2 linked regions of the Homo sapiens genome follow. The protein of the gene in region 2 interacts with the protein of the main gene of each other region in a pairwise test. Each region holds a gene or a part of one and is shown on either strand. Other genes may lie near its edges.

The links. The genes of interacting proteins can lie anywhere in the genome.
Region 1: the proteins of FBXO22 (region 2) and CUL1 interact in binary tests that used the Homo sapiens proteins (3 or more experiments, as listed by UniProt).

Annotation. Positions count from the first base shown.
Region 1 is NC_000007.14:148,792,822-148,796,475, forward strand, and holds part of CUL1 (cullin-1), read left to right. Parts: intron 1-3,654. UniProt on the Homo sapiens protein: Core component of multiple cullin-RING-based SCF (SKP1-CUL1-F-box protein) E3 ubiquitin-protein ligase complexes, which mediate the ubiquitination of proteins involved in cell cycle progression, signal transduction and transcription.
Region 2 is NC_000015.10:75,927,835-75,931,488, forward strand, and holds part of FBXO22 (F-box only protein 22), read left to right. Parts: intron 1-2,049; coding exon 2,050-2,215; coding exon of another isoform or gene 2,216-2,252; exon of another isoform or gene 2,253-3,033; intron 3,034-3,654. UniProt on the Homo sapiens protein: Substrate-recognition component of the SCF (SKP1-CUL1-F-box protein)-type E3 ubiquitin ligase complex that is implicated in the control of various cellular processes such as cell cycle control, transcriptional regulation, DNA damage repair, and apoptosis.

The DNA.
Region 1 (3,654 bases), on a different chromosome or scaffold from region 2:
TTCTCATCTCAGGCTCGTTGTTCTATCAGCTTGCCGTTTCCTTGTTCTCGTGGATATTGTTAGGAAAGATAAGGAAGAGGATATGGGCATCTTTAATTTGAAATAGATGTTTGCCTCATGAATATGAATATGGCCTTATTCCAGGATTTTAATACGCACTACAAAAAGCTTCATGTTAAAACTCATTGTTGAGCCAGGCATGGTGGCACATGCCTGTAGTCCCAGCTTCTTGGGAGGCTGGGGCGGGAGGATCACTTGAGCCTGGGAGGTCGAGGCTGCAGTGAGCTATGATCGTGCCACTGTACTCCAGCGTGGGTGACAGAGACCCTGTCTCTTAAAAATAAAACTACGTGTAACACACACACACATACTCCTCATCCATGCTTTTCTCTCATTCATTTAACCAGTTAGGCTTTTCTTACTAAGCTTAAATTTCCACTTTAGTATTATTTTTCCTGCTAGCCATATTTTTTATTGAGATATATTTTAGATAATAAAATTTGACATAACATAAAAGTCATTTTAAAGTGTACAAAGTGGTTTTTAGTATATTCACAAGCTTATAGAACTACCACCATTATCCAATTCCAGAGTGTTTTATCACCCCAAAAAGAAACCTGCACCCATTAGCAGTAACTGCCCGCTAGCTCCCAGCCCCTGACAACCATTAATTTGCTATCAATTTGCCTACTCCAGACATTTCATATAAATGGAATCATATAACACATGACTTTCTGTGCCTGCCTTCTTTCCCTCAGTGTATACTGTTTGCAAGGTTTGCCCATGTTCTAGCATGTGTTGGTACTTCATTTCTTTTTGTGGTCGAATAATCCAATGTATAGATGGACCACATTTTATTTGTTCATCAGTTGATGTACATTTAAGTTGTTTCCAATTATGAACAATGCTGCTGTGAATACATGTTTTCAATTTTCCTGGGTATATACCTAGGTATAGAATTGCTGAGTCATGTAATAGCTGAATTTTTTGAGGCACTGCCAGACTGTTCCATAGTGGCTGTGCCATTTCATATTCTCACCAACAGTGTATGAAACTTTCAGTTTCTCCATATCCTCACCAACATTTGTTATTTTCATTTTTAAAAAAAATTATAGCCATCCCAGTGGATGTGAAGTAGTATCTTGCAGTTTTTGACTTGCATTTCTCTAACAACTAATGATGTGTAGAATCTTTTTTGTGTTTATTGCCATTTGTATATCTTCTTTGGAGAAATGTTTGATCAAATTCTTTGCCCATTTTTCAGTTGGGTTATTTGTCTTTTTGTTGTTGAGTCGTAAGAATTCTTTTAATATTCTGTATACTAGATCCTTATCAAATATGTAATTTACAAATGTTTTTTCCCATTCTGTGGGTTGTCTTCTTACTTTCTTATATACACACATTTTTAATTTTGATGAAGCCTATTTTATCTATTTTTTCTTTATATTGTTTGTGGTTTTGGTGTCATTTTTAAGGAATCATTGCCTAGTCTGAGGCCAAGGACTATTCTCTCCCTATTGTTTGGTGCTGGCAAACTTGTCAAAAGTCAGTTGGCCATAGGTATATATGGGTTTATTTCTGGATTCTCAATTATTTTCCAGTGATCTGTATATCTTTACTATGCCAGTATCACACTGTCTGGATTACTGTTGTTTTGCAGTAAATCTTGAAATCGAGACCCCTAACTTCGTTTTATTTTCCCCCAAGATTATATTGGCTATTCTGGATCCCTTATGTTACCTTATGAATTTCAAGATCAGCTTGTCCATTTCTACAAAAAGTGCAGTTGAGATTTTGATAAGGATTGCACTGAATCTATAGATTGCTTTGGGGAGTATTGCCATCTCAGCAGTATTTTAAGTCTCCCACTCCATGAACATGGGATGTCTTTTCATCTATTTAGGTTGTCTTTTCTTTCAACTGTGTCTCATGGTTTTCAGTGTATGCATCTTCTACTACTTTCAATTTATTCCTAGTTTATTCTTTTTGATGCTATTATAAATGGAATTGGTTTTTAGTTTTTTAATTGAGACGGAGTCTTGCTCTGTCTCCTAGGCTGGAGTGCAGTGGTGCAATCTTGGCTCACTGCAACCTCCGCCTCCTGGGTTCCAGCAATTCTCCCACCTCAGCCTCCCAAGTAGCTGGGATTACAGGCGTGCGCCACCATGCCTGGCTAATTTTTTGTATTTTTAGTACAGACAGGGTTTCACCATGTTGACCAGGCTGGTCTTGAACTCCTGACCTCAAGTGATCTGCCTGCCTCGGCCTCCCAAAGTGCTGGGATTATAGGCGTGAGCCACCGTGCCTGGCAGAGTTGTTTTCTTAATTTCACTTTTTTCTGTTTTTTTGAGACAGGGTCTCTTGCTCAGGCTGGAGTGCAATGGTGCAGTCATAGCTCACTGCGGTATCAAATGATCCTCTCTCCTCAGCCTCCTGAGTAGCTGGCACTACAGGCGCTTGCCACCATGCTCAGCTAATTTTTGTATTTTTTGTAGAGATGGTGTTTCACTGTGTTGCCCAGATTGGTCTTGAACTCCTGGGCTCAAGTGACACTTTCACCTTGGCCTCCCAAAGTGCTGGGATTACACAGGCATGAGCCACCATGCCAGCCTGTTCCACTTTCTGATTGCTCGTTGCTAATGTATAGAAGTACAACTAAGTACCGCAGGGTGTGGTGGCTCACGCCTGTAATCCCAGCACTTTGGGAGCCCGAGGCGGGCGGATCACGAGGTCAGGAGATCGAGACCATCCTGGCTAACATGGTGAAACCCAGTCTCTACTAAAAATACAAAAACAAAATTAGCCGGGCGTGGTGGCAGGTGCCTGTAGTCCCAGCTACTCGGGAGGCTGAGGCGAGAGAATGGTGTGAACCCAGGAGGCGCAGCTTGCAGTGAGCCCTGATTGCGCCACTGCACTCCAGCCTGGGCGACAGAGCAAGACTCTGTCTCAAAAAAAAAAAAAAAAAAAGGTACAACTAATTATTGTATTTTGATTCTGTTTCCTATAACATTGCTAAATGTTTATTAGCTCTAATTTATTAGCTCAAATAGTTTTTGGGGGGATTCCTTAGAGTTTTTTGATATACTGTCATATCATCTATAAATACAGGCAGTTTTGCTTCTTCCTTTTCTTATTTGGCTGCCTTTTATTTCTTTTTTGTTTGTCTTTGTTTTTGCCTGATTCTTCTGGCTAGAATTTGTGGCAAGAACAAGCATCCTTGTCTTGTTACTGCCCTTATTGGGAAAGCTTCCAGTCTTTTACTGTTTAACTGTGATGTTAAAGAGTGATGGTGTTAGCTGTGAGCTTTTACTAGATGTCCTTTATCAGACTAAAGAGGTTCCCTTTTATTCTTAGTTTATTGAATTTTGTATCATGCAAGAGTGTTGTATTTTGTCAAAATGCTTTTTCTACTCTGTCAAAATAACTGCTTTTTTGTCTGTTAATATGGTGTATTGCACTGATGTTGAACCACCCTGGTGTTCTTAGGGTGAGTCCCACTTGGTCATGGTATATAATCCTTTTTCTATGTTGTTGGGTTTAGCTTGCCGGTATTTTCTCGAGTTTTGCATTTATATTCATAAGGGATATTGCTCCATTGTTTTCTCAAGATGTTCGTTTGGTTTTCGTGTCTGGCTAATCCTGGCCTTATGGACT
Region 2 (3,654 bases):
CTCTCCTTTCTGGTAACCACCTTAGGTTTGTCAAGGTGGAAGTCATGTGGTCAAATCAAATGGAAACACAAGTGTGTTAGGTATTAGATTCATTTTCCTGTCCCCAAAGCACCCGTTTGGTAATGCTGGCAGAAGACATACATGCGGCCAACAATCATAGGAAAAAAAGCTCCACATCACTGATCATTAGAGAAATGCAAATCAAAACCACAATGAGATCGTATCCCATACTAGGCAGAATGGCTATTAAAAAGTCAAAAAATAACAGATGCTGGCAAGTTTGTGGAGAAAAAGGAACACTTATACACTGTCGGTGGGAGTGTAAATTAGTTCAGCCATTGTGGAAGATAGTGTGGTGATTCCTCAAAGACCTAAAGACAGAAATACCATTTGACCCAGCAGTCCTATTACTGGGTATATATTCAAAGGAATATAAATTATTCTGTTATAAAGACACATGCACATGTATGTTCATTGCAGCACTATTCACAGTAGCAAAGACATGGAATCAACCTGAATGCCCATCAGTGATAAACTGGATAAAGAAAATGTAGTACATATGCAGCCATAAAAAAGAATGAGATCACGTCCTTTGCAGGGACATGGATGGAGCTGGAGGCCATTATCATTAGCAAACTAACACAGAAACAGAAAACCAAATACTGCATGTTCTCATTTATAAGTGGGAGCTAAATGATGAGAATACATCGACGCAAAGAGGGGCACAACAGACACTGGGGCCTACCAGAGGGTGGAGGGTGTGAGGAAGGAGAGGATCAGGAAAAATAACTAATGGAGAATGGGCTTATTACCTGGGTGATGAAATAATCTGCACAACAAACCCCCATGACACACGTTTGCCTGTGGAACAAACCTGAACATGTATCCCTGAACTTAAAAAAAAAATCAAATTGATAGTCTATAAACAAGCTGCCAGAGGCTCCAGTGAAACCTGGGAGCTGTGGGCAGAGCAAGTAGGCTGTCTCTGTTACACTCTGCCACCTCCTAGCGGTAGCAGCTTTTAGTTCCTGTGTCACAGAATTGAACATTTTCCTGCTTTGCAAGGAACTTTCAAAGGCTAATTCGCCTTTACTCTCACCTGCTTCCGTGGAGGAGGTGAATAAAGCCTGTATTTCAGTGATGTAGTAGTTTCTTAGGCTGCTGTAACAAAGTACCCCAAATTTGGTGACATAAAACGAGAAATTTATTCTGCACAGTTCAGGAGGCCAGAAGTCTGAAATTGAGATGGCAGTAGGGGTAGTGCTACCTTGGGAGGCTGTAGGGGAGAGTCTGTTCTTTTTCTCTTCCTACCGCTCCAGTTTCTGCTTCTGTGGTCACACTGCCTTTTCTTCTCTGTCTCTCCTTTGTACATCTTTCATTATGAGGACACTGTCATTGGATTTAGAGCCCACGTGGATAGACCAGATGATTTAATCTTAAGATCCTTACTAACATAGCGAGACCCCATCTCTACCAAAAAAAAAAAAATTTTTTTTAAAGATCCTTTTTCCAAATAAGCTTACATGCATAGGTTCCAGAGGTTTGATGTGGATATACCTTTGGCATGGGCAGGGGGCACTGTTCACCACACTATAAGTGGTTAGCGCCTTTTCTCTCCTTTAAAAAATAAAAAATCTGTAAATTCTCACTGCTGCTAGCACAGCTCTGTGTAAACCAGTGTTTTTTTTTTTTTGTTCCCTACTGAGAGCCAGCTTGCACCTTGGTCTACCAAGAGTTGCTGCTCAGTACATAGCTGCTTCATTATTTGTGTTGATTGCATTATTTATTAACACAAATAGCCATTTAGTTTTTTTAATAGAAAAAATAATTAAGATTTTGCATAATGTTTGTAAAAAATGGAAAACTTGATACAGAGATCGAAGAGGATATAAAATAAGATAAAAAATAAAAAATGGAAAATTTGATAGCTTAAGCCACTAAATTGCCCTTAAGGTGGAGTGCAAGTCAGTAACATTTCATTTTGCAGCATGTATAAAATAATTTCTGTTTTAAGGCTGTCTTTAACTGTTGCTCTTCATTTCTCTGCAGGTCTTTTAGATAACCCTGAACTTCGTGTGGTCCTTGTCTTTGGTTATAATTGCTGTAAGGTGGGAGCCAGTAATTATCTGCAGCAAGTAGTCAGCACTTTCAGTGATATGAATATCATCTTGGCTGGAGGCCAGGTGGACAACCTGTCATCACTGACTTCTGAAAAGTATGTCTTGTGTGCTTCTGATTTCGTCTGTGAATGAAGGGAAATGGTCTCAGGTTTTGTCACTTTGGGGTTAACAATTTAAAAAACGTGTTTAAAGAATTATTAAGATAATAGTTCATTCCATTTTGTAGTAGACATTGGCTAAGGGGCTTACTGAACATAATTCTGCTTACGGTTGAATAATTACATTTTTATATATATTGTCCTTCAAGAACTTCCTTGAGTCACATTCTCCTTAAAATTTGACATTGCCTGTTGATCTTTCCTTTGACAGATGTGGTACTCTGTGTGACCTCAATGTGTCACCTCCTTTCTAGTTTCCTCCTTTAAAGGAAACACATGGTTAGAGTGTATCTTTATGGCAAAACTTCTCAGAGCTTCTAATATGCCCAGTGCTGTGGAAATCTGGAAGGAGAATAGCATTACCTGTGACAGTTCCCAAATGTGTTTGGTCACAAAACTTTTTTCCACAGAATGTCTTGCAAGTCGTACTGGTTTTTGGAAATTCTGTATTAGATCTTTTGAAAGGCTTTTTCAAGCTTAAAAATTGTGGATCTTTTTTGTTACTAAGGCTTTTGCTTTCAAAGATAAAAATATTTGCTCTTCTGTCTTGGGAGCCATTACTTCCTTTCCATCTTGAATGAAAATACATATCATTTTGAGTTTGAAACAATTAGGTGGACATAAATATCATTTGTTTCCAGCAGGAAAATCAGACCCTACCCCACCCTCAATGCTTGTAAACACTACTATTTGTTTCCCACTCTGTTTAATATTTGCATCCTAGAGTGGTGACATGGGGACAGACTGTTGCAGATCAGTATCTATAAGAATAATGTAAGTCATCCTAGTTATAGTCTCTCTTCTGGTTATCTCTATGAGCTAGATCTGGGAAAATAGCTAAAGTTGAGGTCCCTGGACTGCCAGGGAGGAGGAAGAGAGGAAGGCCAAGTACGTTGAATCCCAGGCAGGATATCAAACACTGGATTTTGTGCATACATACACTGAATTCTTGGTGGCTATCTAAGTTATTTCCCCTCTTGCCTAATTTTTCCTGTGTCTTTGCTATTAACTTAAATTGTGTACGGATAGGGCAATGGTGATTCAACATACAGTTTACCTTTGAAATGCAGATACCTCACTCAGACTTATAACATCTGAGGTGCTAGCTTGTAAGTGTAGCTATTTGTATATCATCTACTTTTTATACCTAATAAGAGAAACACCCCCCACCCCAATCATTACTCTTCACATGACCCATTAATTTTAATGTGGTCTTCATACTCTGTCAGTGGTTAAGAGAAACCATTGAGTAAATGAGGGCTCCATTTTAATAAAGTCCAGATAACCCAACTGACCCAGTGCCCCAAAAGGAAGATGTATAATTCTTTGAGGCAAGATTGACAATGTATATTAACAATTCTGTACCAAAGAGGAAA